Linked DNA regions of Homo sapiens: region 1 is linked to region 2. A link means that fine-mapping ties the variant in region 2 to the expression of a gene that starts in the linked region. Tissue or cell type: whole blood. Region 2 holds a variant in brackets; the other region holds the start of a gene. All regions are shown on one strand. Distances are from middle to middle. Region 1 holds the start of DOCK5 (dedicator of cytokinesis 5). Region 2 overlaps DOCK5 (dedicator of cytokinesis 5).

What was found.
Region 1: it holds the start of DOCK5, and the variant in region 2 is fine-mapped to the expression of DOCK5 in whole blood (TOPMed, PIP above 0.99).

Annotation. Positions count from the first base shown.
Region 1 is chr8:25,177,470-25,192,501 of GRCh38, forward strand. DOCK5 (dedicator of cytokinesis 5) reads left to right here and starts at 7,220. Exons shown (of 52, transcript NM_024940.8): 1 at 7,220-7,482. The coding sequence starts at 7,440. LOC124901912 (a long non-coding RNA gene) reads right to left here and starts at 6,908. Exons shown (of 2, transcript XR_007060861.1): 1 at 3,348-6,908; 2 at 312-2,575. RefSeq lists silencers at 7,038-7,117, 7,128-7,297, 7,468-7,517.
Region 2 is chr8:25,197,193-25,212,224 of GRCh38, forward strand. The region is part of intron 1 of DOCK5 (dedicator of cytokinesis 5); the gene reads left to right. Among named protein-coding and RNA genes, the nearest start is that of DOCK5, 20 kb to the left of the region's middle. RefSeq lists enhancers at 1-750, 751-1,689 and a silencer at 1,842-1,931. The variant T/C (reference allele first, on the strand shown) is at 9,132.

The DNA of each region.
Region 1 (15,032 bases), 20 kb before region 2:
CGCAGCTCACTACAAGGTCAACCTCCCCAGGCTCAAGTGATCCTTTCACCTCAGCCTCTTGAGTAGCTGGAACAACATGTGTGTGCCAACACACATCTAATTTTTGTGTTTTTTGTAGTGACAGGATTTCTTCATGTTGCCCAGGCTGGTCTTGAACTCCTGGACTTTAGCAATCTGCCCACTTCGGCCATTCAAACTGCTGGGATTACAGGGGTGAGCCACTGCACCTGGCCAGAATAATATTTCATATGCATAAAAATACATGAAATTCAAATTTCAAATCTACTGTTAAAAGAAAGACCATAGCCAAATTAAATTTAACATACTTTAATTGAGCAAAGAACGACTTGAGAATCAGGCAGCCTCCTGAGCCGGGGTAGGCTCAGCAACTCCAGTGCAGCCACGTGGTGGAAGACGATTTATAACAGAAGAAGGAAAGTGATGTACAGAAAACAGAAATGAGGTACAGAAAACGGAAATGGGGTACAGAAACAGGCGGATTGGTTACAGCTCAGCAGCTGGGCGTTTACCTTATTTGAAGACAGTTTTAACAGTTTGCCTCCTCTGATTGGCCAAAACTCAGTGATTGGCACAAGAATAGGTTTTGGTCTGTTTACACTTCCATTGAGATTATAGTTCGCTATGTACAGAGAAACCTTTAGGCTGAACTTAAAATATGTAAGGAGGCAGGTTTAGTCTAAACTTGATCTAACACAACTAATGAAGTTTTACTGGGACACAACCACACTCAATTCATTGTATGTATTGCTCATAGAGGCTTCCCTGCTACAACTGCAGAGTTGAGTGGTTGCAACAAGGCCATATGGCCTGCAAAGCCTGGGAACTATCCATAGTGGGGCCTTTATAGCAAAAGCTTGCAGACCTCTGCTTTAGAGCATGGACCCTGGAGTCAGGCTGTCTGGGTCTGGATTTTATTTTGCCACTAATTAATTATGTAGGTAATTTCTGGACACCTCCTAAGCCACATTTGTGAGGTGGGAATGACCGGAGAGTTATATTTACCTCATTAGGTTGTATGGGGATTAAACAAGGTGATTTGGAGCCAGTACTCATTACTTCATACGCAGTTATTATTGTTACTTTACAGTTGGTGGCTGTGAAAAAATAAAATCGTTCTGGTATTAAATACAAGTTCTGGATTAAATGCTTGTTTTCTTAACTGACCACAAACAGGAAGAAAAATCTGCTGAATATGACAGTCGTCTAAACAAGATAGTCATAGTGTCCGTGTGCCCAAGGAACTGAAGAGTGAAACTTCACTCTTGTCACAAAAAATGATCAGATTTAGGCAAATAACTTCCTACTCTTGCTACATAGCCCAGAGACTTCAGCAATCAAGTATTTTTCTTTATTTTGTTTTGAAGAAGGTTGAATAAAATTTGTCATTTATTCATGTTCTTCTATGGTCATTTTCCCTGTAAATCTATGACTTTCTATAGCTACAATCATTTTGCGGCATAGACAATCTAATTATTTTCATTTATGCCTACATTATACATTTTCCACATTTCTTCTAAGTTTTCATCATCTCTCTTTTTGTTCTTTTTTTTTTTTTTTTTTTTTTTTGGCAGGGGGAACAGGGTCCCCCTGTCACCTAGGCTGGAATGCAATGGTGCCACATCAGCTCACTGTAACCTCCACCTCCTGGGCTCAAGGAATCCTCCTACCTCAGCTTCCTGAGTAGCTGATACTACAGACACACACCACCACACCCTGGTAATTTTTGCATTTTTTGTAGAAACAGGGTTTTGCCGTGTTGCCCAGCCTGGTCTCGAACTCCTGGGCCCAAGTGATCTGCCCGCCTTGGCCTCCCAAAGTGCTGAGATTACAGGCATGAGCCACTGCGTCCAGCCCATCATCTCTTATTTTAAACAGTTTTATGAATATAATTTTTCAATGTATATAGGAATCAAGACATACGGTAAATAAACATAGTTTGTTTTTTTTAAAATCAGGTAGTTTGATTTCATCTCACCTAAATATGGATCTAGTTTTCAAGAAACTAATGCCTTCTTACTGCTCACATCATCCACCTCTCCCAACAGTGGAATCAGCTCATTTAGACACAGCAAAGAACATTCCAGAAACAACACTAGAAAAAAGAATTTTCCCATGTTCATGAAAAGGGTAAATCATAAGTATAAATCTCCTTGTGACAGAGATGAGGAGATAATAGCATTGGAGCCCCGAGCATTATCTTCCCATCCATCAGAGAAGCCGGACCCCCACAGCCACATGGCAGAGCCTGTGCAGACTCAGAGATGCTCACGACCTAAGTCACTTGCAGAGTGGAGAGTGAATAATGATGTTGGAATCCCTGGGGCCTATGAAAAGGTACTTCTGGGACTAGGGTGATTCATGGTTTCCTTTGTCCTGCTAAGCTCATGGGTCCCAGAATTACAATGTATCACCTACTCCTGGCTTACTTAGAACCATCCTTAGGAGCCTGCAAAGCACTGCTTAGAACCAATTACATTATTTGCATTGTTATCATTTTTTTGGTAGTTCCATTAGCCACTGACTCGTATAGGATCACAGAATAATCTTCTTTTATCTAGAGAGAGAGAGAAAAAAGACACTTTAAACGACTCCACAGCATCTCATAGAGAAGCCATCAGACCAGCCTGATTTGGCAAAAACAAGCCTGGTAATCAACAGGGAGGTGAGGCTCTTGCCAGTTCTCTTCACATCCTGTCCATTTATTCTCTAAGGCATTGTAAGGGTTAGTCACAATACTCATGTCAAACTAACCCTCAAAGCCACTTACCCTCATTTCTTTCTCCATGGCTCCTTCAAGCAGAGCCTGTGAGTGTCTGTGCGTGCTTAAGTGTGTTTGTATTTGTGTGGGTTTTGGAGTCTGAAGATCTCTGTGGAATATGCTTAATGTTTCTTCTGAAAAGATATCAGAGGAAAAAAAAAGGGTATTTCTGGGCATCACGCTGTCATTCCAACTGCCTGTCTGGTTAACTGTCTAATTTTAAGCCTCATTCTAATAAAAGACTTTGAAAAGCTCTGCTTTTATGATTTAAAAGGACATTCACACTAGGATTTAGCCATCTGATATAGCAAAGTGAGTGGATTTCAGTTTTCAAAAGGAAATGATAAACATACTGAAAGCTGTAATTAAAATTTTCCATTTTCCTCCAACTCTCTTAAAGCCATTGTCAAATTTGAAATCTCTGGCACCCAAATTCAAACCTCTAGTTTTGGAAGAAGAAGACTTCAATGCAAAAGTGGGATGAGGCAGTTGAAATCGCTTTGGTAGAAACCCAGTTCCACTGGATAAGAGCATTAACATTCTGATGTATGGTACATTTGAAATATACCTTTGGTCAGAGAACAGAGGTCATCCAATTTCCCTAAGCACGGAGAATTCATGTAACTTTGAGAAGCCCTGAGTCCACAACAGGCAAGTCATATAATCCAGTGCAGAGCGCTTTAGCTCCTAAGGGGCCACATGGAGAAGTTGCTGAGGAAGGCGTGAAGAAGTGGGTCCTAAAGAAATATTGAAAGGAAAACTTTGATACAGAGCAACTGGGACAGGAAAGGGTGAAGACAAGATAGATATAAATGGTGACCAAGACAATGGCAACTCTACTCCCTTGCTATTCAAGCCCCAAACCTTAGAGTCACTCTTTTTGTTTTGAATTAATATTTGTTTAGAGACAGGGTCTTGCTATGTTGTCCAAGCTGAAATGCAGTGCCAATTCACAGGTGCCATCCCATTATTGATCAGAAGGGGAGCTCAAGAGAGGGTGCCACCTGGAGCCTGAGGCAGTTCAAATGTGAAGTCCCGGCTACGGGATCTTTGTCAATAATGCAGTCAGTGACAGAGAAAAGACAAGGATGCATCCAGTTGCTTTCTACACAGGGATGCTCTCTGGGCTGCTGGCTGGTTGGAAAAGGGAGGTCTTGGGGTAGATTTCCCCCTGGATATGTGGGCCTGAATTTCTTCAGCTAAGGAGGAGTACCGAAGTTTTGGGATATAGGACTTCCAAATTAGGGCTTTCCAAATAATTGACCCGCTCCATTTCTGACCTGGACCAGTTCACCCCTCCTTAGGCAACCTGGTGGTCGCCTGCTCCCAGGATGTCACTATATTGATGCGGAACTTAGTGCAGACACCTGATCAGCATAGCTCACTGCAGCCTGGAACTCCTGGGCTCAAGCAATCCTCTTGCCTCAGCCTCCCTAGCAGCTGGGACTACAGGCATGTGCGACCTAGCTGGCTTTAGAGTCATTCTTGACCCAGCTTGTATCTCACATGCAGGGACAAGAACCAAGGTGTGTGGGGCCTGAAGGGTGTACGATACGGGTAGGGCTCTTTAAAAAAAAAAAGAAAAATACAAGCATATCTCTTTCTGGGGGAAAACTTTCCAAAAAAGATTGAAGCCTCACAGTAGTAGATCCCCCTGCCGTTCATGTGGCCCTCCTCTTGGTTCTTTTTCATGCTGTGATGCAATCATAGCTCACTGCTAGCCTCGACCTCCTGGGCTCAAGCAATCCTCCCACCTCAGTCTCCTGAGTAGATAGGGCCACAGGCACAGCCACCATGCCCAGGATATATATATAGTAGAGGAGGGTCTCACTATGTTGTCCAGGCTGATTTTGAACTCCTGACCTTAAGCAATCCTCCCACCTCAGCCTCCCAAAATGCTGGGATTACAGGTGTGAGCCACCACATCTGGCCAGGCTCTATTTTCACGTATGTCAAGAACCCAACATCTTTTTCACCTCCATCCTTATCCTCCTGGACCCAACTACCTTCATGTCTTGCCTGAATGACTGAAATAGCCCCCAACATCCATCCATGTGGGCCTCCCTTGCCCCTTTACAATGGATTCATACCACAGCAGGCAAGTTCAATATGTTCCAGGTTGGCTCAAAGCCCTCCAAACCTCGCTTGTAGTAGTAATATATAAAGTCCATATGCCTGCCAGGGTTCTGCTCTATCTGGCATTCCTCTGCCTCTTAGACCAAGTTTCCTCTCACCTGTTACTCAGCTCTCATTACCTAGGATCTCTGGGTGACCTGGGAACCTGCCAAACACGCTTGGTGTCCTTTGCCTTTGCTGTTCCTCTTTTCCAGAATACTTTCTCCCGGAATCTTCACTTCCTTCAGGTCTACACCTCAACCTCAGCTTAGCAGAGCTGCATTCCCAGACCACTCCATAAAAACAGCAGCACCCTACACGCCCTATCCTCCCTGCTTTGGATTTTTCTCTAATGTTTACTCTCGTTTGGTGTACATTTCTTTACTGTCTTACTCTCCCCGTCTAGACTAGAAGCTCTGTGAAGGGACACATTCTACTGTATTCACCGCTGCACCCTCATTCTTAGAGTGATGCCTGGCACTTAACGTGTAGGCATTTAATATGTGTGTGAAGAAGGAAGAAGAAATTACCTAACCTGGGAAATTAGAATCATGATATACTAATGGAGGAAGATAAATTATTTTAGGGAAGATGGTGGAATTCTTTCTGGATGTCAAGTCTAAAGTGACAGAGGAATTTCTTAAATTATTGTTAAACATTGTGAATAAATACCTATTGGTTGATGGAGAAAAAAAAAGCCAGCTCTAGTAGTTACCCACCGTGAATAGGACTTAAAAAAAATTTCAGACCTCGTTTGGTAAAAAACCACCAAAGTTAAAATGCACTAATTCTCCAATGAAACTTTACTATCTTGTTACCTTGTTTGCCTATCTATCTTTACTGTCTTTTTTTTTTTTTTTTTTTTTTAGACGGAGTTTTGCCCTGTTGCCCAGGCTGGAGTGCAGTGGCGCGATCTCGGCTCACTTATAGCCTCTGCCTCCCGGGTTCCAGCGATTCTCCTGCCTCAGCCTCCTGGGTAGCTGGGATTACATGAGCACACCAGCACGTCTGGCTAACTTTTGTATTTTAGTAGAGAAGGGGTTTCACCATGTTGGCCAGGCTGGTCTGGAACTCGTGACCTCAGGTGATCCACCCGCCTCGGCCTCCCAAAGTGCTGAGATTACAGGCATGAGCCACCACGCCTGGCCAACTACCTGTCTTTACTATCTTTACTACATGTTTGTCTTCCTTTCTTTTATATTCCTAAAACGCATGAAAACCTTCACAGGCTGCAAGGAGGATATAATTTCTCTCTAGAGGAATCTTCTTCGAAGGTGAACGTAATTAAGCTGGTCATTTACTCTACTTGCAATGTTACTTCTCGGTACAAGGTAGGGAGAAACCCCTGGATCTTCATTCTCCAAGTCTCTCCAGGAAGAAATGAATTCCAAGAGGGGAGCTCCAGAGAGGGCGCCACCTGGAGCCCAAGGCGGTTCAAATGCGCAGCCCCTTTGGGATCTTCGTCAAGAAAAGGCAGTCGTTGACGGAGAAAAGACGGGGATGCGCCTTGGCCCTTTCTCCACGGGAATGCTCTCTGGGCTGCTGGCTGGTTGGGAAAGGGAGGTCTGGGCATGAGGGTCTAAGTTTCTTCAGCTTAAGGTTGGGGGGTCCCCGGAGTTTGGGGATACAGGACTTCCAAATTAGGGCTTTCTAAACAATTTCCCTGCAGAGGATCCCCTAGCAAACGGTCTGATACTTCTGAGGAGCCCACCTCCCTTGCACCAGCTCTCCGGTGATAAAAGTTCTGCTTTCCAGGCTCTAAGCGGTGGCCCCGGGAGATTCAGTCTGCCCTGAGTCCGGCTTCTCCCGCTCGCGGCGCGGGTTCAAGCTCCAGGGGGTGAAGGCAGAAGTCAACTGCTCATTCATTCAACAAATATTTATTGCGCGCCCGCTTAGTGCCAGGCACCGGAGGTGCCCCGAGCAAGAAGCCGCTCTCGCTGATCCGTTTCCGCTCCCCAAGTGTCCGGCGCGCGCCGTGGGAGCGCAGCCCGCATCCCTCGCCCACCGGCCGCCCGGCCTGGGCGTGCCCGGCTCCTCCAGCGCAGCCCTCTGTCGGGAGCCGGACCCCCGGGACCCAGCCTCCGGGGTATCAGCCGGGTGGGGAGGGCGGGAGAAAGGCAAAGTGCCGCCAGCGTCAAAGTCCCGCCGGCCCAGGAAGCCGCTCCAGGGAAGCGCGCGAGGCGGAGCCGCAGTCGGCCCCCGCCCGGCAGAGCGCAGAGAGCGGCGCGGGCGGGAGAGGCCGGGCGCCCGCGGCTCGGAGGCGGCCCCGGCGGGCGGAGGGTGCGGCCGGCGGGAGGGACTGGGGCGGCGCCAGGAGGGGCGCGCACTGCTGCGCTGCAGCCCGGCCCAGCAGGTGACCGCGGGCGGCGCGGGCACGGGCACGGGCGCGGGCGGCGCGGCGAGGAGGCGGCCCGCGGAGTCCAGCGAAGTTTGGCGGAACATGGCGGAAGCGTCTGGGGCACGCAGGAGCGCGGGGCGGCGGCGGCCGGAGCCCGAGGAGCTGTAGCAGCCTTAGTCGCCGCCGCCGCGGGGCGAGGTCGCCGCCATGGCCCGCTGGATCCCGACCAAGAGGCAGAAGTACGGGGTTGGTGAGTGCGCGCCCCACCTTGTCCCGGCCCGACCCACGCGGCCAAGTTCGCGGACAGCGGCCCTGCCAGGTTTGCGCAGAGCCCGGCGGAGGACCCTGGCCGGGGGCTCGGCCCGGCTGCGCAGCTCTGGGAGCCGGGGACGGTAGGAGTCCTCTCCAGGGAGCGCCGATGGGGAAGTCGCCCAGGGTTTGGGGACTCCGAGTGCTTCCAAGTGCAGCTGAGCTTCGGGACCGTAATCCCGCTCTTGCATCCCAATCTCCGGCACTTCACACCAGGGAAATGTCAACGCGAGGGGGGCGCGCCTGCTGCTCTTTTGGGGCCGCAGCTCTGTGGCTCGCCCCGGTGCGCCCAGCGTGGGTTTCACCTGGGAGTAGGTGACCAGCCCGGGTCGGCACATGGACTGGTGCTCATTGTCCCAGTGCTTTCTGCCCCCCGCTTTCGTAGGTTCTTCTCAGACGCCCCTTAAGTGAGGAGTTGAGGGTGGAAAGCCGCCCTGCCCCCTTTCCTCCAGAGACTGGGATCTTGATGACAGTTGTGAGCTGGATGGAAACTAGAGTCGTGGCGTGGAAGTGATGGAAGGGACAGGAAGTTGTGGCACGGGAAGGGGGTGGCTGGCCCCTGGGGCTGTTTGTGCGCACTCATCCCCTAACGGAGCCTGTCTGGAGAGGGTGTAAGGCTGCCTTCCGGATCCTGAGTTTCATCCTGGAGACGAGAAGAGGACATTTTATTAAGGAAACTGTGCCAGACCCCGTGCTGGGCACTTGGCATTCAGAACAGCGGTGCTGGAGAGCCCCGGGTTGTGCGCAGGGGTTGCTGGTGGTGGTGCTTTGGCTCCGAAACAATAGATGTGCGGGGATTTTGACCCAGGTGGAAAGTCAGGCTCCTTTGGCTTTTTATCAAGGATTGAAGTTATTGAGGGCCTGTGGGAAGACTTCTGCCCTGAACGGGGTGATTACAATGGCAGTTAGACCTGGGGTGATTCCCTACAATAAACACGGCTGAGTGTGTTGCGAATTTTATCACTTCCTCTCAGATCCATTCATTTGGCCTGTTTGTAATTTAGTCTTTGACTTTACTCCCTTACTGAGGTCCTGTTTTTCCTCACCTCACTGGTTAATGAAGTGCAGTCTCAATTAAGAGCTACTCAACGTGTCTAGGGGCTTTTCAACTCTGTAGCCAGGAGTCAGGGTTTTTTGTTGTTGTTTGTTTTGTTTTTTAACAGTCTCATATTTACTATATTATTCTTAGGTTGTGATCCTTTATATATTTATTATTTTTTGTTTTCCCTCAATTCAAAAGACATTTTCTTTTTTGCTCTTAAGTTGCTTTTAGAATCTTAGTCTCTCCCTTAGCTGCATCTCAGAAATGGGTAGAGATGTTGCTTCTGCCTCAGGGCTCTTTTTTTTTTTTTTTTTGGTTTGTTTGTTTTTGAGACGGACTGACGAGGGAGTCTCACTCTGTCGCCCAGGCCGGAGTGCAGTGGCGCAATCTCGGCTCACTGCAAGCTCCACCTCTAGGTTCCAGCAATTCTCCTGTCTCAGCCCCCCTCCCCGAGTAGCTGGGATTACGGGCTTGCATCACTACACCTGACTAATTTTTGTATTTTTAGTAGAAACCAGGTTTCGCCATCTGGGCCAGGCTGGTCTCAAACTCCTGACCTCAGGTGATCCGCCTGCCTCGGCCTCCCAAAGTGTTGGGATTACAGTCATGAGCCACCTCACCTGGCCCCTAGATGAAAGCATATTTACAATGCCCAATCACTACAGAAATGTTATCAACTCTAATTTTATCAGGATTAAAAGCTCTTTTCAAAACTATTCAGTTGAGGGTAATTAATGCAAACATGTTTCAAAAATGTGGTTTTTATTGCCATAGTCCTAGGAGCAAGTATAATTGTTTTTAATATTTTGTTTTTATGTTCTGGAGTCAGTTTACTGTGTCACTTATCAGTCAAGAAAAATATTTGGGCCAGGTGCGATGGCTCACGTCTGTAATCCCAACAATTTGGGTGGCAGAGGCAGGAGGATTGCTTGAGCCCAGGAGTTCAAAACTAGCATAGCAACATGGCAAACGGGTCTTTACAATAAATACGAAAAAAATTTAGCCGGGCATGGTCGCCTGTGCCTGTGGTTCTAGCTACTGAGGAGGCTGAGGTGGGAGGATAGCTTGAGCCTGGGAGGTTGAGGGTGCACCGAGCCCCCATCACGACACTGCACTCCAGCCTGGGTGATACTGTGAGACCCGATCTCAAAAAAAAAACTATATATACATATATATACGTATATATATATATACACACACACACACACGTATACACACACATATATGTATATATGTATATACATATATATGTATATATGCGTATATGTGTGTGTGTGTATATATATATGTATATGGAAATATGGGTGGAAATTGTGTGTGTGTGTGTGTGTGTGTGTGTGTGTGTAAAATATTTGGATTGCATTTCCAGGGCCTAGGTGTTAGGGAAACTGCTCCAGGATATAATTCTGAACACTTATTTCACCAGACATAGATTCTGGTTTGTCTGGGTTTGACAAAAGGACCCACAGTTGGGATAAATTAACTGAAGAGAGAAATCTCCATTGCTTATTGCTAAAACTCATTGTTTTTGTCACCTCCTTGCTTATGTTTATGTCACCTCCCTGCTTGGAAGTCTCTCGTGGTCAACAGGATAAAGTCTGAGCCTCCGTTCCAAGGTTCCTATAATCTGGTTCAGCCTATCTTCAGCATTATCTCTCGAGGCTTCTTTCACTAGCTCTCCAATGCAGACCAACTGCCCTTCCCACTGTTGTGCAACATACCCTGCAGAGTCCCTCCTTTGGGACTTTGCTCCCATTGTGCCTGTCCCTGCCAGGAGTGCCCTCCCAACTCTGCCTCAGACAGCTCACCTTTCCTTGAGGGCTCAAATCCATTCCTACTCCCTTCTTCAAATTTGCTATTTGTCAGACTGTCCCAAACCTCCTTGCTTCTTCCTCGCAGTTCCTGGACTGTGCCATCCTTGGGTTCAGTGAATCAGACCATTGTGGTTTTGTATTCCTAGCACTCAACAGGTGTACCAGGTATTAGTGCATTCAGTTTGCTTGTCCTTGATGTTGGGGTGCCGTTCTAAAGTACACTAACCTAGCTTGTCTGGTAATTGAATGCAGTTTTTTCCTCTTCTTTTTCTTCCCATTAGGCATAACATCTCATTCACCCCAATATGAGTTGAATTTTGTTTGGTTAGATGGAGGAAGGGAGAGCCTCCACTCTGTCTTTATCTCTGCAAGTAAGAGAATGAGATATTCTGCTGAGAAAACAAGGAAGCATGGAGCAGACAGACTTTCTTAAATATAGTTGGGAAAATTGGCTTTCTGGACTTCTCTAAGTGTGTACTGGTCAGATTTGGTTTCTGGATGAAGGAACCGTAGGATAGTCATGTTGAAGCATTTGGATGACTCAGAGCTAGCTATGACTTTGCCTGTTGTGCTCTAAGAGGAGTGTGCCTCTGCAGAGCTAGTCTGTGTGAGGATAGAGCTTTGGACTCAGTATGAATTGTGCCTGCTGAAGCTGGCAGTCGCTACTGTCATATTTTATCTTGGTGCCACTCTTGGCTGTTCCTGACATATCCTAGATGTTTCTACAGGGACTGAAATGCAGCCTGTCTGGGCTTTCTTAGTTCTTAAACAGCAGTGTTGGCTCAGGCTCTAGCATTAAGTGGATCTCAATGGTTTCTGTGTGTTATCAAGTGAAGTGACTGATCTATTTGATTCTTTAAACTTATGGTGCTCTAGTACCCCAGTGTTAAGTGCTCAGTGGCTAAGTGTTCTTCCCTGGAGACGTGGAAAATGTGCTTTTTTCTCATCTTTTTTCTTTCTTTGTTTCTCTTTTCTCTCTCTTTTTTCTGTTTGAGCATATGAAGATATAAAACACTTTTAAGCAAACATTAGTGATAAATATCCAGAATAGTCTGATTATAAAAACATTTATTTTTAAGTTTGCTTCCACACAAGCCATTATGTAAAGAATAGCCCCAGATTAGGTTGACTATGGATTCTTTGCAAAGCTTTTTTTTCTTTTCTTTTCTTTCTTTCTTTCTTTTTTTTTTTTTTTTTTTTGAGACAGGGCCTCACTCCACAGCCCAGACTAGAGTACAGTATGATCATAGCTCACTGCAACCTGCCATCTCAGCCTTCCAAGTTGCTGGAACTGCAGGTGTGCACCACCATGCCTGGCTTAAGTTTTTTGATTTTTTAAGTTTTAAAATATTAAACTTTTAAAATAATCATTTTAAAGATGGAGTCTTTCTATATTGTCCAGGCTGATCTGGAACTCTTGGCCTCGTGTGCTCCTTCAGCCTTAAGCCTCCCATGTTGCTAGGATTACAGGGGTGAGCCATGAGCCTGGCTGATTTTTTTTTCTTTTCTTCTGAGACAGGGTCTCGTTCTGTAACCCAGGATAGAGTGCAGTGGCAAAATCATGGCTCACTGCTGCCTCAACTTCCTGGGCTCAAGTGACCCTCCAGCCTCAGCCCGCTGAGAGCTGAGAGCTACAGGTGCGTGCCACCACAACCAGTTGATTTTTGTATTTTTTGTAGGGATGGAGTTTCACCATGTTGCCCAGGCTGGTCTGGAACTCCTAGGCTCAAGCAGTCCTTCTGCCTCAGCCTCCCAAAGTGCTGGGATTACAGGCATGAGCCACCACACCCAGCCTTATTCTTTGAAAAGTAGCTCATTGTTGCATGTTGGGATTTGTGATCACATATATTTTTATGATGTAACAAAAGGCAGTTTTGGGAAATATTACTAGTTAGCTCTTCAGGTGTTTACTTGTTTAAAGCTCTTTAGTTGTTTAGAAGCATCTGACTTAACGGAGTAGAGCTTTGAATGCTGATTTAAGACTGACTTCAGACTTGGGCTTTTGTTGTGTTTTTGTTTGCTTATTTGTTTGTATTTTGAGATGGAGTCTTGCTCTGTCGCCCAGGCTGGAGTGCAGTGGTGCAATCTTGGCTCACTGCAACCTCTGCCTCCTGGGTTCAAGCGATTCTCCTGCCTCAGCCTCCTGAGTAGCTGAGATTACAGGCGCACGCCACCACGCCCGGCCAGTTTTTGTATTTTTAGTAGAGACGGGGTTTCACCATGTTGGTCAGGCTGGTCTGGAACTCCTGACTTCATGTGATGTGCCCGCCTTGGCCTCCCAAAGTGCTGGGATTACAGGCGTGAGCCACCGCTCCTGGCCCAGAATGTTTTTAAATGCATAAAGTACGATACAAAGTTCCAAGTCACTGTAGAAATAAAAATTAAGTAAATTACAAAGGATAGAAAATGAAAACAGCCGTATTGAAATAGGCCGTGAAGGTGTTTTTCAAAGTTCGTGATACTGCAGTATATGTACTTCTTTATTAATGCATAAAGTACCAAGATCTAGTGACAGGTCTAATAACTAGCATAATTTTGAATTAGTCACGAGCATATATGATTTTTCAAGATATCTGCAGTAACCATACTATGATATAAAAATCCCTGTTTTATTGGTGACAGTATCACAGGCGCTAGTAGTGCAATTGCGGTTTATTGGCTACAGTCGTAATTAAAGTGAGTGCTGAATGTCAGAAAATAGAGATGTAACTTTTTTCTTGTTCAAGTTCGTGGATCCTCTGGATTTAACAGATTAAGTATCCTTGGCTGAGGATCACATAGCTAATTAGTTACAGTGCCATCTGAGCAAGACAGTGATACTTGTTGACCACCTCTTTGCACATAACACTGTACCGGATATTATATAATTATAATGACCCGAAGAAGGCCTGGCCTTAACTTGGTCATGGGTTTTTTTTTTTTTTTTTTTTTTTTTGAGACGGAGTCTTGCTCTGTCGCCCAGGGTGGAGTGCAGTGGCGCGATCTCGGCTCACTGCAAGCTCCGCCTCCCGGGTTCACGCCATTCTCCTGCCTCAGCCTCCCGCATAGCTGTGACTACAGGCGCCCGCCACTGCGCCAGGCTAATTTTTTGTATTTTTTAGTAGAGACAGGGTTTCACCGTGTTAGCCAGGATGGTCTTGATCTCCTGAACTTGGTCATGTTTTAACAGCATTGAGGCTAAGAACAAAAGGAAGAGAGAATTAGTATTCATTGAGAACTTCTCTTGTGAGGTACCATTCTGAACCCTTTATTTTAGTATGTTCCAGGGACATGTGGGGTCTTGGAGACACGTTCAGAATGGGGGGGGTCCATGAAATTAAAACTTTCTTTTTGCAATAATGCTAAGCCGTTATTGGCCTGTTTACATTCTCATTCTCTCGTTAGTGGAGTTTTCCAGAGGCTTTGCAAAGTGCGATATGGCCACCGATGGAATGCAGGGGCAGCTATAAAGACCCAGCTGCCTATAGTGAAGTCAGACATTAAAGAGACTTCCAAATATGCAAAACAAAGCCACGCTTCCAAGTGTTTTTGTTTGAGAAAATAGTTCTGTTCCTTGAAAATATGTATTTTTACAAACATGTATTGGATTTATCATAGTTATTTTAAATTAATTACCAACTACTTTTTGAATGTTTCAATTTGAATTTCTGATATGGCAAGTTGTGATAGATGTCACCCACATAGAAGCTCTTTGGTGGTTCTCAGTAACTTTTAAGCAAGTAAAGGGGTTCTGAGACAAACATTTGAGCTGCTTTACCTGTTATTTCATTAAATCATTGTGGCAGTGATATGAAATGCTGTTGTCCCCTGTTTCTGATATAGGAAATGAGGTTTGCAGAAGATGAGTTTCTCATCCATGGCCATATAATCTCACTCCAAAAACAAAATCTTTTTTTTAAAATTATATATATATATTTATTATACTTTAAGTTCTAGGGTACATGTGCACAACGTGCAGTTTTGTTACATATGTATACATGTGCCATTGTGTGCTGCACCCATTAACTCGTCATTTACATTAGTTATATCTCCTAATGCTATCCCTCCCCCCTCCCCCCACCCCACAACAGGCCCTGGTGTGTGATGTTCCCCGTCCTGTGTCCAAGTGTTCTCATTGTTCAGTTCCCACCTGTGAGTGAGAACATGCAGTGTTTGGTTTTTTGTCCTTGCGATAGTTTGCTGAGAATGATGGTTTCCAGCTTCATCCATGTCTGTCCCTGCAAAGGACATGAACTCATCCTTTTTTATGGCTGCATAGTATTCCATGGTGTATATGTACCACATTTTCTTAATCCAGTCTATCACTGATGGACATTTGGGTTGGTTCCAAGTCTTTGCTATTGTGAATGTGCCACAATAAACATACATGTGCATGTGTCTTTATAGCAGCATGACTTATAATCCTTTGGGTATATACCCAGTAATGGGATGGCTGGGTCAAATGGTATTTCTAGTTCTAGATACCTGAGGAATCGCCACACTGTCTTCCACAATGGTTGAACTAGCAAAAACAAAATATTTAACCCATGTTGTGTTTCCCAAGTTCCACTTGTTCATCGTCACCTTGGTTTTGCCCTGTTCAGGTACCACTGTGTAGCAGCTTCAGGGCTATTGCTATACCCATTTCCATCTGTA
Region 2 (15,032 bases):
ATAATGGGGGTTTTATTGTCAAGCTTTATAAAAGTGTTTTTTGAGAAATTATTTTGAGGCAGAGATGTGGATGAGCACGTTAATTGTGTTTTTCCAAGTAATGTTTGGGCCATGTCCTCTCAGAGCCTGGGCTCACTCAAACGATTGTCTGAATGCTGGCAGCCACTTCCCAAGCAAGAGACAGAAGTGGGCTTTGTCTTTCAGAAAGCTCTGTGCCATTGCAAAGCCACTGTTGTTCGAATGGGTTCATGGTCATTATCCACCTTTTCCCAAATGTGCCGTTTGCTCTCATATTTCCACAGCTGATTAAACCCTGTCACTATCCACATCAGATAATAGTTGGACCCCAAAGATGCCCTCTCTTTAAGGATCGTGTCTTTGTCTTTTTTTTTTTTTTTTTTTTTTTTTTTGAGAAGGAGTCTCGCTCTGTTGCCAGGGTGGAGTACAATGGCGTGATCTCGGCTCATTGCAACCTTCGCCTCCTGGGTTCAAGAGATTCTCCTGCCTCAGCCACCCAAGTAGCTGGGACTACAGGTACATGCAACCATGCCAAGCTAATTTTTTTTTTTTTTTTTTGAGACGGAGTCTCGCTCTGTCACCCAGGCTGGAGTGCTGTGGCGCAATCTCGGCTCACTGCAAGCTCAGCCTCCCTGTTTCACGCCATTCTCCTGCCTCAGCCTCCTGAGCAGCTGGGACTACAGGTGCCCACCACCATGCCCGGCTAATTTTTTGCATTTTTAGTAGAGACGGGGTTTCACTGTGTTAGCCAGGATGGTCTCGATCTCCTGACGTCGTGATCCGCCTGCGTCGGCCTCCCAAAGTGCTGGGATTACAGGCATGAGGCACTGTGCCGGTGTCTTTGTCTTTTAAAACAGCTTGAGGGAAGGAAAACACAGTGGAGACTAATTCCCTCTTGAAAATAACTCTTTGCTGACTCAGCCAAGGTGCATTAGAATGCACCCTCCTGATGGGTTTGTTACCTGTATACCTGCAACAAGTTGCATCGTATTTGATTTGTACTTTCTGTGAGCCTGGAACAATGCGGCTCTCATGACCCAGCCTTCCCTGCCAGAGACCAGTTATAAGACGAAGTGACGACCAGACACGGTGTCTCATACCTGTGATCCCAGCACTGTGGGAAGCTGAGGCGGGTAGATCACCCGAGATCAGGAGTTTCAAGACCAGCCTGGCCAACATGGTGAAACCCCATCTCGACTAAAAATACAAAAATTAGCTGGGCATGGTAGTGTGTGCCTGTAATCCCAGCTATGCAGGAGGCTGAAGCACAAAAATCACTTGAACCCGGGAGGCAGACGTTGCAGTAAGCTGAGATCGTGCCACTGCACTCCAACCTGGGCAACAGAGCGAGACTCCATCTCAAAAAAAAAAAAATACTAAGTCATAAATAAGACTCAGTTGTCAAAATCTAACAGTTTTGCCCTCTTGTATGTAGAATCAGAAGATATTAAGAGCCGGAGTTTGTAAGTATTACCTCTTGGCTAACACCCTCATTTTATCAGAAGAAAAAAAGCCCCAGAGACATCAGATGACTTACCTAAAAGTCACACAGCTAGTAGCAAATTTTTGTTTCAACTTGCTGTCTATCTTTCTCCTTACTTACAACTCTGGAGAGGGGTTTGTTAATCAGATCTCCTTAAGGTTGGAAGAGTAAATTCTCCCCTCTCCATCCAAAGGGGAAGATGCCTGTGTCTCCTGGGTTTTTTCCAGGTGGAGGTTTTGTTATAAGTAAGGTTTGGCTGTTAAATATCTTCCCTTTTTTAAGAGTTCTAGGAAGGAAGTGTGTTTGAGGAGGTTTGAGCCTGCAAAGTGGAAGTGACACTGTGGGTTGCACGGTTTGGCCACTGACTTCTCACGTGGTTTCAGTCCTTAGCACCGTGGTATTGACATGACATCAGTTGCAAAATTAATAAGTAATGTGGCATTGTTACTACATCACAGGCATATTTGAGAATGAACATCACTGTGTTTTGCAAAGTAAACGTTTAAGGGGTGAAGAAAGGGTCATGTATTGCTAATAAAGGATTATGTTAGTAACCTGGATGTGAGAGAACATTTCTACTTTTTCAGACCTGTATTTCAAATAAAATGTGATGTCATCTTCTGAAGACTTAGGAAAAGTTTGAGTGAGTAAGCGCCTTCTCCCTCAGCTTCCATTTCCGCTCTGTTCTTTTTTTTTTTTTTTTTTTGTGAGACGGAGTCTTGCTTTGTTGCCCAGGCTGGAGTGCAGTGGCACCATCTCAGCTCACTGCAACCTCCACCTCCTGTGTTCAAGCAATTCTCCTGCCTCAGCCTCCCTAGTAGCTGGGATTATAAGCATTTGCCACCACACCCGGCTAATTTTTGTATTTTAGTAGAGACGGGGTTTCACCATGTTGGCCAAGCTGGTCTTGAACTCCTGACCTCAGGTGATCCTCCCGCCTTGGCCTCCCAAAGTGTTGGGATTACATGCGTGAGCCACCACGCCCAACCAACTTCTGCTCTATTTTCTTTGCTGGGAGTGGACAGCTTTACTCTGGAGGAGGAGATGCAGCCTCTTCTCATGCAGAGACAATCACTGTCATTCTCCATCGGGAGCAAACTCCTGAAATGGGGCAATATCTACCCACGTGGAACCAGAGGTGCTGGTGCTGGTGCTGGTGCTGAGCTTTGAACTTCCTTCAGAACAAAAGTAAACAGCAAGTTGCCCTTGTTCTTTACCATAAGCAGAGAAGGCCTGTCTATCCAATTGTGACTGCATGATTTGTTTTAGATTTGTTAATTTACATTTTGCAGAATACTGAGGCACATTTTCTGTGAACTTATGTGGTTATATATACTTTCAATCAGTGGATACTGGAAGCATTGTTATACATTTGATGTCTTTTATAAAAGAATCCTAAGGGCCAAAAATGTTGGGAACTTTGGAGTAACTGAAATGGCAATGTGCTGTATCTTATCATAATACTTTGGAGTTCATTGTGACTTGAAAATTCCAATTAAAGTTGGTATAACCTCTATCATGTATTGATTAAAAATGCACATACCCTTTGACTTAGCAACTCCGTTTCTCTGAGTTTATCTTACAAATATACTCCACATGTGGGGAATAATACATGGACAAGGTTATTCATTATAGCATTATTTATACCAAAAACATGGAAACTCTCAAGTGTTGGCTAATTGGGGATGGATTTAGTAATTTATAGCACATGCATACAATGGAAAACTATATAGCCATTAAAAAGATTCTGACGCAGTGATAGATAAAGTGTTGACAAAGGTGAGAGTGGCATGTAGTGGTTGAAGGATGATCTTTTCAAAAAATGATACTGAGTCGTTTGTTTATCTATACTGAACAAAATGTATCAGGACCCCTACCTAATACCACATAAAAAATTGATTCCAGCTGTATGAAAGATAAAACAGTGGAAGCTCTTAGAAGAAAACATAAGAGCACATTTTTGTTACCTTAGAATAGACCATCTGTAATTTAATACATTTTGCTTTCTGCCATTCAGTTAGTTACTTATGACCATCTCTTTGTTAATCAACAAAAACCAAATCCAATATTTTACTTCAATAAAGGGCAAAATAAAACATGCCTGTGCTGGTCTCATCTCTTTATAATCCTACTTTTTAAAACTTGTATAATTACATCTTATTAATTGTAGTGTTAATTTGTTGGTTGTTTAAGGATCTAAATGGCTATTTCTTCTTCTTCTTTTTTTGTTTGAGATGGAGTCTTGCTTTGTCACTTAGGCTGGAGTGCAGTGGTGCAATCTCGGCTCACTGCAACCTCCGCCTCCTGGGTTCAAACAATTCTTCTGCCTCAGCCTCCTGAGTAGCTGGGATTACAGGTGCATGCCACCATGCCCGGCTAATTTTTGAATTTTTAGTAGAGACAGGGTTTCACCATTTTGGTCAGGCTGGTCTCAAACTCCTGACCTCAGGTGATCCGCCCACCTCGGCCTCCCAAAATGCTGGGATTACAGGCGTGAGCCACTGTGGCCGGCCTAAATGGCTATTTCATGGTGAATAAACCATTAGCCTCAGGCTTCGTCTCCTCTCTCTGTTTGAAGACAATAAAGTATGATGTAATTGTATTATTTTGATAAGGTAATATTTAGTCCCATGACATACAAAACACTAGTAGCATTACATAAAACAAAGTATTTCAATAGTGAAAGAGAACATTTATATACAATTATTTCTATAGTCTAACAGTATCACTAACATTACATGCCTTTTAAAAAATATGTTTGAGTTACTGAAGAAGATTGAGATACAGATGTTGACTTGTTTAGGGCAACAGGTTAAGCTAACTTTAGAACGCTGATTACTACCTTTAGTCCTGCAGGCTGTGGAGCCGGGCAGCCAAGCCATGCTTGAAATCAGAATCGTCAAGGTGGATGCAAGAGCCATTGGCTGCAGAGTGAGGTTTTGGAGAGTAGTTGCTTGTGGCTGGGATTTTTGAAGTCCAAGTCTCCTAACTTTTATTACTCTTTACCTTGTGAAGTCATATAAGGCTCTAAGTCAAGTAAGACGGAAGGAATAAGATTAGCACACTTCCTGGTACAGTGGGCAGTACGTGATAGCTATCTGAAAGTTTGCTCAGTCGCAGCCTCCCTGACAGTACCCTAGCCTGGCAATCAGGTGCCTTTGTTTGCAGAGTGGGGCTGATTACCAAGTAGTTAATACTGGTTGGCTCAGAACCTGTCCTCAAAGTTCAGAATAGATTTGAGTATATTTTTGATTTTAGAGCCTTATGGCCAGAAATGGCCTTATCTTGCAAGAATCTTCCTGGGAAAAAAACATATATATATATATTTTTTTCTTCTCTTTGAGACAGAGTCTCGCTCTGTCACCCAGGCTGGAGCGCAGTGGCACAATCGTGGCTCACTGCAATCTCTGCCTCCCGGGTTCACGCGATTCTCCTGCCTCAGCCTCCCCAAGTAGCTGTGACTACAGGCATGCACCACCACCCCCAGCTAATTTTTGTATTTTTAGAAGAGATAGGGTTTTGCCATGTTGGCCAGGCTGGTCTCGAACTCCTGTCCTCAAGCGATCCACCTGCCTCGGCCTCCCAAACTGTTGGCATTACAGGTGTGAGCCACCGCACCCACCCCTGGAAAATATTTGAATTCCCAGGGATCTCTGGGTGATGGGACTGTTACTTTCTTCTGATCCTGTGCTTTTGGGGTGGTACTCACTCACTGGCTTAGAACAGCCTGGAATCCTAAGAGGAATGGATGAATGAATGAATTCACACACAACAAACTAACGGAAATGTTTTGAGTCACGCCACCTTGCGTGTGAATCCCCTTACTGTGGCTAACCCACCTCACTGTTCTGAGGAAGCCCATGTTCACTGAGCACCTTTTATGTTCCAGGGTCTTGCTGGGCTGGATGGTGGTGAGGATCACACAGTAGTCCCGCCTTATCCTCAAGGCATGCTTGAAACCACGGATAGTACCCAAGCTTGTATATACAATGCTGCTTCTATACAAATATATTTATGATAAAGCTGAATTTCTAAATTAGGCACAGTAAGAGGTTATCAACAATAACTAATAATAAAAAAGAACAATCAACACAATATGCCAGTATTACCACTCTTGCACTTTGGGGCCATGATTAAGTAAAATAAGGGTGACTTGAACACCAGCACTGCAATACCCCGGCAGTTTGTTTTTGAATTTTTTTATTTAATATTTTTGGACCTTGAGTACCTGAAGCCACAGAAGGTGACACAGGGGACACTAGGAGACTACTGTGTAAGATAAAGAGTCTATAGAAACACACATAGAAGCAGTAGGCAGGGATTCATAATGGCTGCTTTCCTTTTCTTTAGCTTGATAAGAGTGCTACCAAATACATCTCCAGTGTCATGAATTCATGGATGTGTGACCAGTAGCTCTTGGCCAGCCATTTCTGGTCTTAACACCCAGATCATCATAGAATATGAGGATAGGAATCCACTGATGACAGAATCCTGAATGACTATCTTATGTGCCTGAAAGCCTGCCTCAAAGAAGGCTGATGTCTTCTTGAATTAAAGAGTTGCTTGCATATAGAATATACTGGAGTCATTTTTCAGAAGATCCTTACATGGCTTGGCAGAGGGTGGCATCCAGTTTATCTTTGGCGGAATTAGATTTGCTGCTCAAGATTGTTTTCAAATTGTTTGATAGCTTCAGGGAGGTCCACTGGTAAGCTCACAAATTCAGAAATAGTTTGAGGCTACAGAAGAATTCTTTTCATGTTTGAGCTGTGATCTAAGCCAAGAGCCTTGGAAATTTTGAATCCGTCTTATATTTTCTTTCCTGAATGAGAAATGGGTATACTTGCTCAGTTCCGATTCTGACAACATGACTTATTTCAAAAACAAATAGCTCACTCCGTGAAGCAAACCCTGTATCACTCTCCTCTGGTGACATTTCGATTCTGATACAATGTGGTGGCATGGGGATAGATTTTAGACCAGGAAAAGAGAGAGCCTCTCATTTGTGGCCCAAAAGACTCAATTTTAAAGATCAGATTGGAATCTGTCAGGGAGGACATATGGACATAGTGATTTTTTCTTTTATTTGCCTTTTTTCGCCTCTCTTTACTTTTGGTTTAATGTCTTTTAGGACTTGAGGTACAAAATCCCATGTTGTGGAGGCATTAGCTAACAGTTGTAAAACCTTAGGAAAAGTACAGCATCTCAGTGATCCTGCCTTCCTAAAATTGCTCCTCAACAAATACAGATGGAGGAAATAGAAATATCTAAAATGAAACGTGTTCTTTCGTCTTAGATGTCTTTATCTTCTTGCTTTTATCAGCAGCCTTGAGTGACAGGATTTTATACTTTTGGAAGATTAGAGGGTTTGTTTGTTTTTCTTGCAGAAATAGTTACTTATACCATGTTCATTTATCTGCCTCAGTTCTGAGAATTCTTTGCCAATTTTTTTAATAGCATGTGTTTGGATGAATTATAGACTTCATAGAAGTAACTTCAGGAATTATCGACTTCATAGTCGATACAACATAATGAGACCCTGTCTGTACTTTAACTTTTTAATACAAGAAATTTTTTAAAATTTTAGGGGCATTTAGGTTTTTGGGGGATAGTGCATGGAGTGAAACTAACAGAAGTATTGATCCCAGGATTAGGAAGTTGGGTTTGTATTTCAGTCTCTGTTACAGGAGTGACCAAGTGGCTTGACTCTCTTTAGCTTAGTTTTTCCATCTGCAAAACAGAGATAATATTTTCTATTACCTTCTAGATTCTCAGAGTGTGATGAATTTTCAGTTGTTGAAAATTTCTGCAAATGAATTAAGCGATGCCTGTTAGGCCACATTAATGGACTAAAAACTGCTAGGATCTAAAGTTGACATGCCATTGAACTTTCTGCCTGAAGACTTACTGAGGAAACTTTGTCTACAAAGGTTTGGTGCAAAGAACCCCATTACTTTATGGCCAAATTTTCTTCACATGCCGATGGTAATCCAGTAGTCTTTCTTCTAACTTCTTGGCGGCTTTCATATACTCTTCAGACTGGCTAAGTCATACGTTAATAGGAAGAACTAATTTTCTCTCCCTGAGGCTGAACTTGTGATCTTTTTCATCTGGTTTCCACTTCTCAGATTTCCCCAAATCTCTCAGTCGTCTTTCCCAAAGTATTTAAAGGAAGATTGATTTTAACAGAGTGCTATGGACTGAATTATGTCCCTCACAAATTCCTATGTTGAAGCCTCAGCCCCTAGTGTGATGGTATTTGGAGATGGGTCCTGGGAGATAATTAGGTTTAGATGAGTTCATGGTGGGGCCCTCATGAGGGGATTAGTGCTTTTTTTAAAAAAAATTATTTTTAAAAATGTCTTTTATTAAAAAGTTAATTAAAGTACAGACAGGGTCTCATTATGTTGGCCAGGTTGGTCTTGAACTCCTGGCCTCAAGCAATCCTCCCACCTCAGCCTCCCAAAATGCTTGGATTACAGGTGTCAGCCCCTGTGCCTGGTCTCTTCTTTTATGTGGAGAGCGCTCTCCCTCTCTCTCGCTCTTGCTGTCTCTCACTCTCTCTCCCTCTGTCTCTCTCTTTCTGTCTTTCTCTTTCTCTCTCTATGCTATGTGAGGATACAATGAGAGGGTGGCCACCTATAAGCCGGGAAGAGAGCCCTCACCGGAAACTGACCATGATGGTAACTTGATCTTGGACTTCCAGCCCCCAGAGCTGTTAGAAAACACATTTCTGTTATTTAAGCCACATGGTGTGTGGTATTTTGTTATGGCAGCCTAAGCTGACTGAGACACAGGGAGTTGCGTGTTATTTGAAATACGAGTCCACTGTTGCCAGATCAAAGTTCAATCTCTGTAGTTTAATCCTAGATTTTTCCCTCCTCTTTTACAGGGATTTGAATCTAGTGAAAGTAATTCACATGCACATCAGATACATGCCTTTAGCAGCCTTCTGGCCTTGAAAATCCTGCTGTTGCTGATTCAGTTGTCAGGGCCCAAATCAGCTGGTGAACTCATGAGTTTGCAGGTCTAGAATTGTAGGTGTGGGAAGGGGAGAGAGACATGGGTTACTGAAGACTTGTGCAAATAAATGCTGTGTTCATCTTCACCGATTCACCAGGTATCTGAGTAGGAGGTATGCACTTAGCACTTGGAATACTCAGAGATAATGCCATTGCACACTTAATTGATACTTCTCCTAACACTTAAGAGAAGTGGACATAGATTCTGTTTGTGGGAAGTTTATAATGAATTAAAAGACCCCAAGTATAAAGCCATAAATAACTCCAGGGAAAGGAAGGCTGAACATGAAAAAAGTTGCAAAAAAAGTCCAGTTGGGGTTATTGGAGTTTAGAGAAGCAGAGATTATTCTAATTGAGGGAGTTGAGGAAGCTTCAGGGAAGTAGTTGAACTTTATAGAGATGGACATCAGGTTTGGGAAGGCTGGGGACCTGGCACAGCGTGAGCCCTGGCCCTAACGCAGTTATTTGTGGCAAGTGGATAATGAGGAAGTTGTCCATTCTTGCTGAAGCAAAGGGTGGGTAAAGTGGAAAAGAGGGAAATGATATAGATTTTGTCAGATTATGGGGAGACTTGTTTACCTTGATTTTTTTTCTTCCTCTTTAACCAT[T/C]CATGCTGCAATAGTGTGCTGGTAAACTAGCTCTGTAGAGTGGGAGGAAAAAACTTGAGTTTGTAGCATTCACCAATATCTGTGGTGTAAATACTCCCACAGTGGCCAATTTCAGACCAGCAGTGGATTAAGAGATAGCTCACAGAATTCCTGAAAATTCCTGAAAATGTAACAGTTGGCCCTTCCAAACTAGTACAAGTTTGCTCCAGTATTCTGTGAAAAACCTGGGCTAGTTCCTACATGACAAATAGTTACAGTACCTGCCTGCCCACAGCCTGGATAGAAGACCCAGGGAAGGCCTAGGTAGCCTCGTTTTACACCATCTAAGATTCCTGTGGCCATCACTGATTGTCCCTGGATGGACACACTACCTAGAGGCCATTCCGTAGCCTGGACAATGACATATGGTTTGACGCAAAGAAGTAAGTACTCAATCAGGTTCCTTCTCTTGGGAATTTGAATGAGGAAATACCAATATGTTTTGCCACAGGGGCAAAAGCTAAAAGGATGTCGTTTGGGAGTTGAGTTGGTGGCAACCTGAAGCCATGTGGAAGCCAATGTTGTGAATGGAAACCACAAGGAAACTGAAAAAGCTGATTGATAGAGAGAGGGGAGCAGATGTGGAGAGACCCTACAGCCCTAGAGTGGCCCCTGTTCTTAGCAGCTTTCCAAGTCCAGGTCTAAAACATCCCTTTTCTGAGGCAATTTGAGTGAGTCTCTGTTCCTTGCAATACCGTGGCATCACTGAAGAAGTTTATGTGGCAACTCAGGGTACTTTGCAGAGCTTTCTATGAATGCAGACATACCTCCTTCTATATAGCACATCACTTTATTGATCGACCATAAGATTCATGGTCGATCAATAAAGCAATGGTTCATGAAGTTTGATGAAAGAAGTTTAATAAAAGAAGCCATTGCCATAGCATAGAAGTGCAAGGTGAGGCAGCAAGTGCTGATATAGAAGCTGTGGCAAGTTATCCAGAAGATCTAGTGAAGATATTGATGAAAGTGGCTACACTAACAACATATTTTAAGTGTAGATGAAATAGCCTTCTATTGTAAGAAGATGCTGTCTAGTACTTTCATAGCTAGAGAGGAGAAGTCAGTGACGGGCATCAAAGGATAGGCTGACCCTCTTGTTAGGGGCTAATGCAGCTGGTGACTTTAAATTGAAACCAGTGCTCTTTCACCATTCTGAAAAATCTGAGGGCCCTTAACAATTATGCTAAATCTACTCTGCCTGTGCTCTATAAATGGAACAGCAAAGTCTGGATGACAGTACATCTGTTGACAGCATGGTTTACTGACTATTTTAAGCCTACTGTTGAGACCTACAGCTGAGAAAAAGAAGATTCCTTGATTCAAAATATTACTGCCCATTGACAATGCACCAGGTCACCCAAGAGCTTAGATGGAGATGGACAAGGAGATTAATGTTTTCATGCCTGCTGACACAACATGAATACTGCAGCCCATGGATCAAGGGATAATTTTGACTTTCAAGTCTGATTATTTAAAAGAATACATTTCATGAAATGGTGGCTGCCATAAATAGTGATTACGCTGATGGTTCTAGGTGTAGTACATTAAAAACCTTCTGGAAAGGATTCCCCATTCTAAATGCCACTAAGAATATTGATGTTTCATGGGAGGAGGTCAAAATATCAATATTAGTAGGAGTGTGGAAGAAATTGATTCCAATTCTCATGGATGACTTTGAGGGGTTCAAAACTTCAGTGAAGGATGTCCCTGCAGATGTTGTGGAAATAGCAAGAGCACTAGAATTAGAAGTGGAGCCTGAAGATGTGAGAATTGCTGCAATCTCTTGATAAAACTTGAGCAGAGAAGAGTTACTTTTTATGAATGAGCAAAGAAAGTGGTTTCTTGAGATGGACTCTATCTTGGTGAAGATGCTGTGAACATTGTTGACAACCAAGGATTTAGAATAATCCATAAACTTGTTGACAAAGCAGTGGAAAGGTTTGAGAGGATTGACTCCAAATTTGAAAGAAGTTATACTGTGGGTGAAATACTATGAAATGCTATCAAATAGCATCACATGCTATAGAGAAATATTTCATGAAAGGAAGTATCAATTGATCTGGCAAACTTAATTGCTGTCTTATTTTAAGAAATTGCCACAGCTGCCCCAGTCTTCAGCAACTGCCACCCTGATCCATGAGCTGCTATCAATATCAAAGCAAGACCCTTCACCAGCCAAAAAATTAAGAGTCCTTGAAGGCTCAGATGATCATATGCATTTTTTTAGCAATAAAATATTTTCAAATTAAGGTCTGTACATTTTTTAGACATAATGCTATTACACACTTAATTGACTGTAGTGTAAACATAACTTTTATAGGCACAGGGGAACCGAAAAATTTGTGTGATTGGCTTTACTGCAATATTTGCTTTATTGCACAGTCTGGAACCAAATCCACAGTATCTCCTAGGTATGCCTATATAGCAAATTTCTTAAGAATAGAGGACAAATCACTTGCTTCTGATTGAGGTTAAAATATGCCCATGACCTTCATTTCTTTGCCTTCCCTCCCTCCCTGCACTCCTCCCAAATGACTTGTGAATATTATTTTTTCATTCTTTTTCATTCCAGCAGAGCTGGTTTGGAATTCATGATGTTGAAAGAATAGCCAGTAGGAACATGTGGTGGGGTGATGTTTTGTTGGCATTTACCATTACAGAAAATCACAAGAAAATTGGAGCCATTAGCAGCAGGGAAAGGAAAATGAGTTCTTTATCTGCTGAGGGCATCTGGTGAGGGAGGGTCTGTGAAGATGCCGCGGGTGCACTGCTCTAGTATGAAATGCCATTTGAAGGAGGCTCAGAGCACATTAGCGCCGTCATCCCTGTCTGATGTTCTCACCACACGCAAGTTCGTGAATAATTAAATTGTTAGGAAGGGGAAAGTCATGCATGGCGGGTCTTGCCCGAGGCTCAGGCAGACACACAATGAGGTCGCTACTCTGGGAGCCCAGTGGTCCAGGATGCCAGTCTGGCAGTGCCAGGGAAGGATGCTTCCTTTCAATAAGCGAACATTGTGAGGGAGCGGGGTGGAGGCAAGAGACCGCTTAGAAATCAGCACATGTGAATTCTGCTTCAAACTCTGCCACTAACCAGCTATTTGACCTTCCAGAAGTTGCTTCTTCATCTATAATGAAGGATGATGCCAAGAGGATTTTAACTTTTTGAGAAATAAAGCTCCTTTGAGACTGTAATGAAAGCTGTGGATTCTTTCCACAGAAAATGGTGCATATGTCTGTCGATGACATTTCACATACAACTTTAGGAAGTTTAGAAATCTTTGGGGACTCAAGGATCCCAGCTTAAGAAGAAGTCTTGCATGAGATGATGTCTGAACTTTTTTTGTATCTCTACAATTGCATTTTTCTGAGACTTTGGATCTTGGAAGGAACCTAGAATGTCAGCTGGGCTCTCACTTCTACTCTCAACAAGAGGCAAGCCTGCCCTGCCAGCATTTCGTGCAGAAGGCGCAAGCAACATGGGAGCCTCCTGTGTTTTCCTCAAAAGACACCATACTTCTTTTTCATTAGAGACAGGGTCTCAGCCTCGCTCTGTTGCCTAGAGTGCAGTGGCGCCATGATCCTCCCCCCTCAGTCTCTTGAGCTGCTGGGACTACAGGCACATGCCACCATCCCCGGCTAATTATATATATATATATATATATATATAAATGTGTGTGTGTGTGTGTGTGTGTGTGTGTGTGTATCTGTCTATTTATCTATCTATCTATCTATCTATCTATCTATCTATCTATCTATCTATCTATCTATCGAGTAGAGATGGGGCCTTGCTATTTTGTCCAGGCTAGTCTTGAACTCTTGGCCTCAAGCGATCCTCCTGCCTTGGGCTCCCAAAGTGCTGAGATTACAGGCATGAGACACTGCATCTGGCCCTCTATAACCTCTTGATGTGTGCATTCTAAGCGGGAAGAAACAGACAGCAAATGCACAGTATGTATAGCATGATGTCAGTGATCAGGGCTTTGAAAATATTGATGAAGCACAGTGATGCCATAGACAGTGATGGGGTGAGGTGCTGTTGTCGAGTTGGGATGGTCAGATAACGGCTCTGTGGAGGGGATATGTGGGAAAAGATGTGAATAAAAGAGGGATTGGGACCGGGCGCTGTGGCTCACACCTGTCATCCCAGCATTTTGGGAGGCCAAGGTGGATGGATCAGTTGAGGCCAAGAGTTCAAGACAAGCCTGCCCAACATGGAGAAACCCCATCTCTACTGAAAAATACAAAAATTAGCCAAGTGTGGTGACACATGCCTGTAATCCCAGCTACTTGGGAGGCTGAGGCATGAGAATTGCTTGAGCCTGGGAGGCAGAGGTTGCAGTGAGCTGAGGTGGCACCACTGCACTCCAGCCTAGGCGACAGATCAAGACTGTCTCCAAAACAAAAAAGAGGGACTGAGCCATGCAAATCTAAAGTAAGAACATTCTAGGCAGAAGATGTGGCACAGTTAAGGAGCAGTGGAAAGTGCCAATGTTCCTGGAGCTGAATGAGGGGAGGGGGAAGGGAGGAGGGAGAGGTGGGAGACAGGTTGAGAGACTGGCAGAGCTGAGGTTGGGGTAGTTCTTTGTCTACTGGAAACACAATTATCTGTACTCAAATGACATCTAATAATAATGGTTATTGATAAGCCACCCATTCATTTCATAGGCTTGGTTCATTACCAGCAATGGGCTGCTTTAATAAGACAGTGGTCCTCAAACCTCCTTCTGTCAACAGCACCTGGATAGCCTGCTTTGCAGAGTACCATTGGAATCAGATATCCCTGTCTTTAAGGAACTTACAGTACAGCAGAGGGGACAGGATGGTGTCTCCATTATTTTGTGCACATGGGAGAATTGCTGTGTCTCATAAGAGAAGCACAGAAAGTGCCAAATAGAGTTTCAGGAGAGGAAGTGAGTACTATCTATTGGAGAGGTCAGGAAGGCCCCAGGGAACAACTACGCCAGTTTTATCACCCATGCACTGGGGATGGTATTAGAACCTCCCACAGCATTGTATAGATAAACTGTTTGAGTGCCTAGAAAGCTTTCCACACAGGGCCTGGCACACACCTAGTAAGTGCTCAATAAAATATGGGCAAGCATTTGACTTGCGTCTTAAAGAAGGTTTACGATTTCTGAAATATAAAATGCTGTCTGTGGCCAGGCACAGTGGCTCATGCTTGTAATCCCAACACTTTGGGAGGCTGAGGCGGAAGGATCACTTGAGCCCAGGAGTTTGAGAGCAGCCTAGGCAACATAGAGAGACCACATCTCTGCAAAAACATTAAAAAATTAGTCTGGTGCAGTGGTGCATACCTGTAGTCCCAGCTACTCTGGAGGCTGAGGCGGGAGGATCGCTTGAGCCCAGGAGGTCAAGGCTACAGTGAGCTACTATCATGCTGCTGCACTCCAGCCTAGGCAACAGAGCAAGAGCCTATCTCTAAATAAATTAATTAATTAATAAATGCTATCTACGTAGTTTATCATGCAGATTTTTTAGAAATACAGCTTCCGCCGGGCACGGTGGCTCATGCCTGTAATCCCAGCACTTTGGGAGGCCGAGATGGGCAGATCACAAGGTCAGGAGATCGACACCATATTGGCTAACACGGTGAATCCCTGTCTATACTGAAAATACAAAAAAATTAGCCAGGCATGGTGGCGGGCACCTGTAGTTCCAGCTACTCTGGAGGCTGAGGCAGGAGAATGACGTGAACCTGGGAGGCAGAGTTTGCAGTGAGCCGAGATTATGCCACTGTTTTCCAGCCTGGGTGACAGAGCGAGACTCCGTCTCAAAAAAAAAAAAAAAAGACAGCTTCCATGTAAAGAACTATTCAGGTCAAAATAGCTAGCTATTT